Homo sapiens: one gene and its partner. The protein of the gene in region 2 purifies or fractionates together with the protein of the main gene of each other region. This does not show direct contact. Each region holds a gene or a part of one and is shown on either strand. Other genes may lie near its edges.

Evidence for each region.
Region 1: the proteins of CST7 (region 2) and CTSC purify together in Homo sapiens (co-immunoprecipitation; one study listed by IntAct). This does not show direct contact.

What each region holds. Positions count from the first base shown.
Region 1 is NC_000011.10:88,295,347-88,299,736, forward strand, and holds part of CTSC (dipeptidyl peptidase 1 isoform a preproprotein), read right to left. Parts: intron 919-4,390; coding exon 787-918; intron 1-786. UniProt on the Homo sapiens protein: Thiol protease. Has dipeptidylpeptidase activity. Active against a broad range of dipeptide substrates composed of both polar and hydrophobic amino acids. Proline cannot occupy the P1 position and arginine cannot occupy the P2 position of the substrate.
Region 2 is NC_000020.11:24,954,822-24,960,457, reverse strand, and holds the end of CST7 (cystatin-F precursor), read right to left. Parts: intron 3,172-5,636; coding exon 2,999-3,171; intron 1,531-2,998; coding exon 1,414-1,530; intron 824-1,413; coding exon 746-823; 3' UTR 530-745; downstream 1-529. UniProt on the Homo sapiens protein: Inhibits papain and cathepsin L but with affinities lower than other cystatins. May play a role in immune regulation through inhibition of a unique target in the hematopoietic system.

The sequences.
Region 1 (4,390 bases), on a different chromosome or scaffold from region 2:
CATCACATACAGCCTGATCTGAAAGCCTAAGTACAGATTTTTTTTTTTTCATAACAGGGCCTCACTCCGTTTGCCCAGGCTGGAGTGCAGTGGCATGATATCGGCTCACTGCAGCCTTGACCTCCTGGGCTCAGGTGATTCTTACACCTCCGCCTCCTGAATAGCTGGGACTACAAGCACACACCACCACGCCCAGCTAATTTTTTGTATTTTTAATAGAGAAGGGGTTTCGCCGTGTTGCCCAGGCTGGTCTCAAACTCTAGGACTCAAGAGATTCACCCATCTCAGCCTCCCAAAGTGATAGGGTTATAGGCATAAGCCACTGTGCCCAGCCCTAAGTACAGAATTTTAAAATTCTCCCAGAGAGAAACCAGTGTTAGTATAGTTTTAATAAAAGTTGGGTTTTGGAGACGATGATTAGAAGTGAAACTCCAATGCTAAAAGCTGTGAGACCTTCAAATTATTAGAAAAATTTCTTAGTTCCTGTTCCCCGCCCATAAATAGGGATTATACTTACTACTTCTCAGAGTTTTGAGCATTGTTAGGCAATATATGTAACAAGCAGAGCTCACTCAATATATAGTAACTATTGACATTTTGCTGGATGGTACAGTAAATTCCATGAGCAATCATCCATTAATAAGTGATAGGGCCAGACTTGCACTCAGATTTTCTGACTATAGACACTGCGCTCTCTCTACTGCATCATCCTTTTGCCTTTGCCAACAACAGCCAGCTGCACACAGGTAAATAGCTCATAAATGGTGTCTGAAATGCAACACTTACCTTGAGCATACTGGCTACAAGACACAACCTCCTGAGGGCTTAGGATTGGGGTCTGAGAATTGTTGGTTAGTATACGGATTCTCGCTTCTAGCATACCCATAGAAGCAAATGAGTAGCAGCTGCCACAGGATGCTGGCGATGAAAAAAAGACACATAATCCAAGAGACATCTGAAGCCTCACAGAGAATCATGCAAAAACCTTAGTGAATCACATACATTAATGTTTATACTGAATGTTGTTGTTTATAAGAATCAGCACAATAAGAAGACTCAACTAACAAGCATTGTTGAGCTTATTAAGGCAATCATTAAGATTTCATCCTTTTTCATCAAAAGGCAAACATTAGTACATGGGACTTTCTTTGAGAATATTTTAGAAACTAAAAAAACCCCTCATAATTTCTGAGAAGCTTTTGGCAATATTCTTGATAATGATGAAAGGATTTATGTCTACAACGTTCAAAGCCATCAGGTTGGGTGATGGAGGAATACATGTGAGCTGTGGAGGAATACACGTGAGCTGAGCTTTCAAATATCTCTAATGCAATGAGATGAAGGTTTATGTCCCTCTAAAATCATGTTAAAACCCCAATCCCAAAAGTGATGGTCTTAGGAGGTGGGGCCTTTGGGATTAGTGACCTAATACAAAAGGCTCCAGAGAGAACTCTCATCCCTTCTACCATGTGAAGTTATAGAGAGAAGTCAGCCTGTGAGTCCTATTTCCTTTTAACTACTGCCATTTCTGATGTTCCCTAAAATTCTCCCCCTAAAAATCTCAGATTGACCATATTGTACACTGTTTTGCTACTGAGAGATTATCTAAATTATGAAGATTAGAAAAGCACTTGGAAGAAGGACCTGTGAATTCATCTAGTGTACAACCTGCTCACTTGATAGATAACGTGTAACGGTGGCTCAGAAAGAAGCAATGAGCTGTCCAAGGACACACAGCTAATAGATAGCAGGGACAAGTGCCTTACTGTCTCCTAAGGCAGGATTAGTGTCCTTTTCAATTTATGGGTCTGTGTCTACTTTAACAAATATTCAGATTTTCTCTCCCTGTCTCGTAGTCACTAGACAGGGCAAAATTAGCTTATATCTTTTGTTTTCAAAACCATGCAGATGATACTATCCATAGGACCCATCCTTCAAATGACGGAATGTCAAAGAACATTGTACATTGTACACTGAACATATAACTGTGTTCAGCAGTACCTTCCAACAGTGAAGAACACACTGAACTAGGAGTGAGGATACTTTTTTTTTCCTCCTTTCTTGTTTTGCCCCTCATTAGCTGTGCAACACTGGACAACTTACAAATACACCTTGGCGCCTCATGAAAGGAAACCAATGTCAAAGAAATAACACAACCCAGGAGAGTCTGGAAAAGGTCCCTTTCTGACCACCCAGCTTTCTTGGCCCATAGCAGCCATGGAAATAATCTCTCTCAGTACTGGTCATTAAACTCCCATTATCTGACCATCGATCACTGTGGGAGGCACAGGCTGCAAGTGCATTCAAGGGCTCTGAATGTGTTCTATTTACAGAGCAATCACAGGAACAAGGGAAGAAGATAAACTTCATCAAGCCCCTGACCTGTAAGAATGTGTCAGCTACCAAGGTAATTAATGCCTCATTTCAACAGCCAAGGCCAATCTGATTCTAAAAGAGCCATTTATCTCTTAAGAATACTGCAATGCAATAAAGAATAAGAAGTGAATCTAGCCCAGCCAGAGCTCTGCAGTAATCAAATTTCTACAATCTCAAATAGATAGTGTGATCTTCATATGGTATAACTATGTTCAGCAGCACCTTCTAACAGTGAAGAACACACTGAACTAGGAGTCGGGAGTCAGGATTCTTTTTTTTCCCCTCCTCTCTTGTTTTGCCTATCATTAGTTGTGCAACACTGGGCACTTGACCTTTTGACACTGTTTTTTTCTTTTTAATCTTTTGTGTAAAATGAATTGGGTGGAGCAGTTTAAGGTCTCTGCCTTCCTGCTCAAATAATATAAATAGCATTTTGAAACAAGACTTAAATGGACTAGACTTTACGCATTATGAAAACACTCTGTATTTCCTAATTAATGTGACCCAGGAGAGACACTTCCCTTCTCTCTTAAAAATACAATAATAAATAAAAACAGCATAGCTGGGAGAAGAACAAAGAAAGCCCATTCTGCCGTATTTCTAAGCTTCTCTTCCCTCTCATACCTCAAAGTATTAATAAATCTAGGTATAAGGCTTGTTCTTAAATCTGTTTTCAAGTGTAAAGGTAAAACCTCATTTGTCCTCCCACTATTTCTTTTTTCTTTAATTTCAATTTGCTCTCTGACTACAGAAAAGCTGTGAATTCCCTTAATTGCAGCTAATTCTGAATTCTGGGTTATACAGAACACTGGTATTGGCAAAGTTGGTGGGAATTTTCAAGTAGCCCAATTAGCAGGAAGAGAAAATACTTTTTTCCCCAACTTACAGTATAGAATACCAAAAGAAAGTCAAAAGAGGAAACTTTAAGTACATTATTTTCTCAAGTACCTGACAAGATACTGTAGATGAGGGATCAATTCAAAGCAATTAATCCATCAAAGCCCTCTGTTTTGAAATTGCCATTTCTCTGTACAAATCATACTTATAACAGTCAAAGAATAAAGAACATGGGAGAAAATAACAGCTTTTACCAAGCTATATGAAAACCAATGTCAAATAATTTGGCTTTAGAAAGTCGAATTTCCTTTCCCTGAATTATTATCTCATATAACTTGTCAATCATTTCTTTTGGGAAGGGTTTGCTAAACTCTTCTACCTTCTCTTATGTTACCAATGAATTTAAAAAATGCTTTATTAAAGTAGTTATCATGCTTTACTTTAATGTTTTGCTTGTATGTCTTGCTAAACTGTAAATCACTAGGACAAGGACTATGTCATATTAGTCTTCATTTCCTCTGCCATTAAAAAAATCCTAATATATTTTAGATGTTCTGGTAACAACACCAGAAGCAACACTATAGTATCAGTAGCTCAAATTATATCATGCCAATGCTATCATGTGCCAGGACCTCAATGATAAAGTCAACACATAATATGCACTATGAATTAATCCTCTCAGGCACAAAAAATCTATTTGGTGATAGCATAACTTGCAATCTCTTAACATGGACCCTTCAATTTCACTTTCCATTCATTTCTCAATTATCTTCAAATTTATCTTATTTCCAATCCCACTTTCCAAAGAAGCCCTCCCCAGGAAATTGAGAAGGTAGGGAAAGATTTCAGGACCTATACTTTCTTTAGAGCTGAAGAGCCCAGAATAACTGGTAGAAAAGCAAAGAGACGAGACCCTTGGTGTCAGATGAAAAACAGAAATGTTGCTGACTGGCTGTTATAAGACCCACTTGGGGCTCTCAACATTCAGAACACTGCAAGAATTCAGTGAGATGGGAGCTTGGAGGGCAAGTGATGAAAATGAGACACGGCAGAGACTGATTATCACTAAAAGTTTAGGAAAGGGAAACAACAGTTTATCTTTGGGTACTATAAATTTATAATCCTCCCAGGAGACACTAATCAGAATGTTTCCAGACAGCAAATACTAAACCTATTT
Region 2 (5,636 bases):
GTCCTCTCTGGAGGGCTCTGGGGAGCGGTCTGCTGCTCTGCCCCCACTCAGGCAGCAGGGCAAGTCCCTGGGAGGCCTGAAACTCAGGGAGGCACAGTTGTGGCCCTGCTCCTCCTGGTGCGGACAGCTCACCTGTTCTGGGGCTTTGGCCTTCGGGGGGTTATAGCTAGCAGCTCAGGCTGGCCAGCCCCCCAGAGGAAGTAACTTCAACTTGTCAGACCCCTTGGTAAGGGAGATCCCTGGTAAGGCTTGCCTCACCTCCCGACTCTCCCGTAAAAGGGCCGGCATGGCTGCTGCTGGCTGTTCATCTTGATTCCCAGTTGTGTTCATCACAACCGGCCAAGGCGCCCAGTGGCCAACAGTGTCCCCACCCACATCTCTGCTGATTATTCAGACCCAGAGCTGTACCCCTGCTCTCCTGGGGGCCTGTAGCCACAGGGGATCATCCCTTAGTTTCACAACTCCCTCCATTGACTCAGTCCCCTGCACCCAGACCCGGAATCTAGGTGGGAAGCCTCAGAAACAGGAGTTAATTTTAGAAGCAAATGTGATCTATTTAATCTGTTAGGAGGTGCTACCATGCTGCCATTCCAGCTGCCCTGCGGTGACCCAGTGGCACTTCACCCGCTCACTCGTCAGAGGCCTGAGAGGGTCTGTGAGGCTGGGTCATGAGGCGGGTGGGAGGGGACAAGGAGCATGCATCCTGGTGTTTGTCATGGCTGTGGTCTTGCTGAAGAGGCGGGGGTCAGTGACAACGGAGAACAGGCACCTCGAAGTGCTGGAGCCAGGGCACGACCCAGACTTCAGAGTAGCAGCTCAGAGTCTGAAACAGAGAAGGGCACACCTGAGAGCTTAGACTTTCCCTGCGGGGAGCCCTCTGCCCGTGGAGGGGTGGTCCTCATGGAGGAGCTCTTCTCCTGCCCCTATTTTTCATTTTGAAAAATTTCAAACCTACAGAAAACTTGAAAGAACGATTTAAGAAAATGTGCTTTTCACCTCTGTAATTGCTAAATGTTGCTGTGTTCCCGTTCTCTTGCTCTCTCTGCAGAGATATGCTATATATGATATACATATGATACATATCATATGTATGTATATGATACATATATAATTTCTGGATTGTTTGAAAGCTTTTCTTACTCTAACCCTCTCCACTCGCACCCCAGGACGCTCTTCCAGAGCTGTGTCTCCGCCTCTGGGACGGGAGGATGTCATCTGAGGAGCTCCTGGCACAGGCTCTACCTCCTGTTCTCCCGGATCCTCAGTCGTGCGGGAGTCTGGGAGGCCTGGCTTCCTCAGGGGTGAGGTTTGGGGCGCTGCGTTAGAGACGTGGTGACGGTGTTTTTCACAGTCCTGGGAGGGAGTGGGCTGGGGAAGAGAGGGCACATCTGAGAGAAGGGCCTGCTGCTTTACCTGCTTCAAGGTGTGGTTGGTTTGGAAGTCACAGTCATCCAGACGCAGGTGCTGGTTTTTCTTGCAGGTAGTTCTGCCAATTTCCACCTCCAGCATATATTTCAGGCCTTTCACTATCTGGAGGGAGCAAAGGGACTGGGTTACTGGGCACAGGGGAGGGAGGGCAGGCTTCTCCACTAGGAAGCAGGGCCTCAAGACAGTGGTGCAGGTGCCCACCGAGGAGAAGGGAAGTGGGCCAGCATCTTGGGGCAATGCTTCGGGCTTACGGCAGAGCCTGCAGACCCCTCCCACTCCCCTCCCTGCCCCGTGCTGGGTTTGTGCCCCTTCCTGAGACAGATGTCTCCTTTCTGGCCAGAGCTCTGCACTCAGGAGGGACGTCACACTAGGTCTCCTGCATGCCCTGCTGGGCCCGCCCTGCAGCCCTCACTCCAGCCCCATGATGGCTGTTTCTTGTGGCCTCTGTGTCAGGCCTGGGGTCTGCGGGCTTCCCCTCTCCATTCCTGGGGTCGGGAGTTTTGAGTTTCTGGACAGCCCTTCTCCACTTGGATATGGCAGCCGCCTTGTTCATTCTCATTTGTGGTCTTAGAGGAGTTGAAGAAAAATTCCTCAGGTTTTAGTCTCAGCTTTAGGGGAATTACGTTGTCCCCAATATCACCAAGCTAGAGAGAGACAACCTCCAAGTCCCCTCCCAGAGAACCCCAAGGACTCAGAACCAGGGCATCCCACTGGCCTACCCGGAGAAGGAGGGAGGGCCTGCATCACCCAGGGAAGATCCCCTGTCCCTGAGGCCAGGCTGCAGAGCGAGGACCCTGGCTACACACCCACGATTCTCATATGAAAACATGCTGTCCTTCACAAGTTTGCAATTGTCAAAAATAATTAGGTTATAAAAATCACCCCTCCCTGTGACCCAGCATAACCATGAACACTGTGAAGACTGCCTTGGACAGGGCTGCTTCTGCCCCTTACAGGCACCAGCACACGGTGGTGGGTGTCATCCACAGCCTGCATCCCACATTAGCAAGTGGGTGTTCTCAGGACACAGACAAGGGTCCTCTAGGAGGGAGGGTGCTGAGCGGGCGCAGTAGGAATGAGTCAGGGAAAGGGCAGTGGCTTGGGCAGAGCTCTTGGACTCTGGGATGTGAGTGAGCACTCCAGGGGGAAAGTGGCAAAGACACCTCTGGGCTGCAGGGCACGTGAGGGGTGAGGCCGGGTGAGGACCCTGGTCCCAGCAGGGGCAGCTCCTCGGACAGCGGCTTTCTCCCCCATCAGCCTTGGCGCCTGCCTCAGGAGCCCCATTAGGGCCCTGGCACCTCCTTACCCCATGCCTAGTAGGCTCTGGGCCAGGGGCCTGGTAACCACCCAGGAGCCGTGTGCTTTGTGTAACCTTTGCGCTTGGCCCTGGGGGATGCTGGCCTCAGCTGCTGCTGTCCACTCCCACCCCTTGTGCATCTGCTTTCTGCTCAGAGCTCTGCACTCAGCAGGGACTTCACATTATATCCGCCCTGCTCTCCTAGGTGTCGCGTTGTAGCAGCTCGGCTTCCTAGGGGTGTCCGTGATATGTGACCAGAACCCAGACCGTTACCTGAACTAGGGCCCTTGTGATGCGGGACTCCTTGAACAAGAACATGTCGTTCGTGCAGTTGTTGAACTTTTCAACACTGTATCTGGCTGCTTGGAGGACTCCTGGGTCATTGGTCTTTATTGTTTTAGGAAATCCTGGCTTCACACGTGAGTTAAGGTCCTGGGAACAAGTATCTGAAAGAGACAAAGAGCCAGACAAGAACACTGATGTTAGTGGGGCCTTCAGTCCAGGTGTCACGCCTCATGCCTCTGTGATGCTCAGTTCTCTGCTGGCGTGTGTGTCCTGGCCCTACCCACCCCTCACCTGCTCCCCCTCTTACCTACCCCTGTCACCTGTCCCTGCTTACCTGCCCCCACCCTACCCACCCCTAACCTGCCCCCCTCACCTGCCCCCTCACCTGTTCTCCCTCACCTGCCCCCTCTCACCTGCTCCCCTCACCTGCCCCCCTCACCTGCCCCCTCACCTGTCCCCCCCGACACCCCTGCAGTGCATTTATTGCTCCATTTTCAGAGCTGAGGACCAGGTGCCAGGGGGTGCAATGAACCTGTCCCCCACTTTCAGAACCCAGGGTTATTTCCAACGTAAGTGTTAAAAGCGGAACATGTCCCACAGGTGAGATCCTCAGTACGGGATGTAGCCTTAGGATGTAGGGAAAGTCAACCCCAGCCTGGCCCTCTGGGCGGTAGATGGAGGTAGTGCCTCCCACCGGAAGGAGATGGCGCCGTCCTCGTCTCAAGACCTTTTGCCCGCCTGGCTCTCAGTCTCAGGCCCAGCCCCCAGGAGGGCACCCCTCCTGGCAGCCTGCAGCACTTGGTACCCCTGCGCTGCCTCCTGACTTTCCAGGGACAGTCTTTTTCACTCCTATGAGTGACAGTGCACTGTGTCCCCAAGCTTCGTTGGGGTCGGGGAGGCCTGCCCTTCCTGTACCAAGGAGGGCTATATTTGGATAAAAGATGGGGAAGCAGCATCGGGGGCCTCCCCCACAGTCATGTCCCCTAGTATCTGTGCCTGAGGCTGCAGGACGTGCGTCTTTGTGCCTGCTATGGACTGGATGGAAAGCTGGGCCCCAGGGTGTTGAGGGCAGGGTGATTGGGGAATGGGAGGGGACAGGCTTCATAGCTGGGCACTGCAGGGAGGCCTTGCCAGGACGTCAGTGTCAACTCAGAGCGAGGGCCCCAGAGGAGGCCATTCCCACTGCTGTGTGAGGTCTGCAAGAGGCCTTTCCTGGGTCCTGGATGTCTGTGGGTGCACACCAGACCCCACCAAGGGTAGACAGGATGACGAGGTTTCTGGTCACCACGTGGCACCCCCAGGCTGGGTGGTGCAGCGCCGGGAGTGGGCAGAGAAGCATGGGACTGGAAGTTCTGTGGCCTTGGGATTGTCGCCCCATCCCGGTAAAGAGTCTCCATTGTGAAGGGAGGCCACCTGGCAAATGGCTGTCCCGTGGTTGGTTCTGGGCCAGAAGGTGAGCTTCATGGCTGGGCTTTGGATGACTGTGCCTGCCTTGTGCTTTAGCAGCCCAGGGAGCCTGGCCTTCCATCCCAAAAAAGCAGCGCAGTGCTGGTGCCCCACCCCATAGAGAATGCTGGCCACGTGCTGGTCCTGTGTGCTGGTGGATAGCTGTGTCCTGCGCTGGCATGCCCTGGGACTGTCCTTCACACTAATTAGTGTCACACACATCCCCCCTGAAACTGCTGCAGCCTTTGCTTAAGAAGACTTTAGGTGGCTCACGTCTGTAATCCCAGCACTTTGGGAGGCCGAGGCGGGCAGATCACGAGGTCAGGAGATCGAGGCCATCCTGGCAAACACGGTGAAACCTGGTCTCTACTAAAAATACAAAAAATTAGCTGGACATGGTGGCGGGCACCTGTAGTCCCAGGTACTCGGGAGGATGAGGCAGGAGAATGGCGTGAACCCGGGAGGCGGAGCTTGCAGTGAGCCGAGATCGCGCCACTGCACTCCAGCCTGGGCAACAGAGCGAGACTCCGTCTCAGAAAAAAAAAAAAAAAAAAAGACTTTAGGCCTCTGAAGATGGAATAGAAACCGCTCTGTTCCTGAGCACCAGGGGCTGAGCTTGGCCATCTAGGGGAGGTCCTGGAACCTGCATTTCCCCAGGCTCTCAGGTGACTCTGACACTGGTGTTGGCAGTGAGGGGTCCCTTGGGACCTGCAGTGTTACCATCAGGAAGGAGGGGTCCCCAGAGCCAAAGGCAGCTCCTTCTGGTCCTTGTGCTTGTTGATGACAGGAAGTTGAATGTGGCTTTTAGTTAAAACAAAAAACTGTTCTGGAAACCAGCTTGGTTTCAGCTCATCACTGTCATCTGAACAGCAGAGAAAGAGACACGTGTATGGAAGGGGTAGCATGTGTTCAGTGTATTTTTGCTGTCAGATTAGCGTTTTTTTTTGTTGTTGTTGTTGTTGTTTTGCTTTCTTTCCTCACATTACATTAATATGGCTGTCCATTGTTTTCTTTGTAAAAACTACATTTTATGGCTTTTTCTGACTATAAACTTACCTATTTTTGGTAGAAATTTGAAAAATACAGAGGAGCATAACAAAAAATAATTATTTTTAATATCTTAAAGCTAACCACTATTAACTTTTTTAAAAAATAAAATGTATTTACTTTTGCTTGAGAT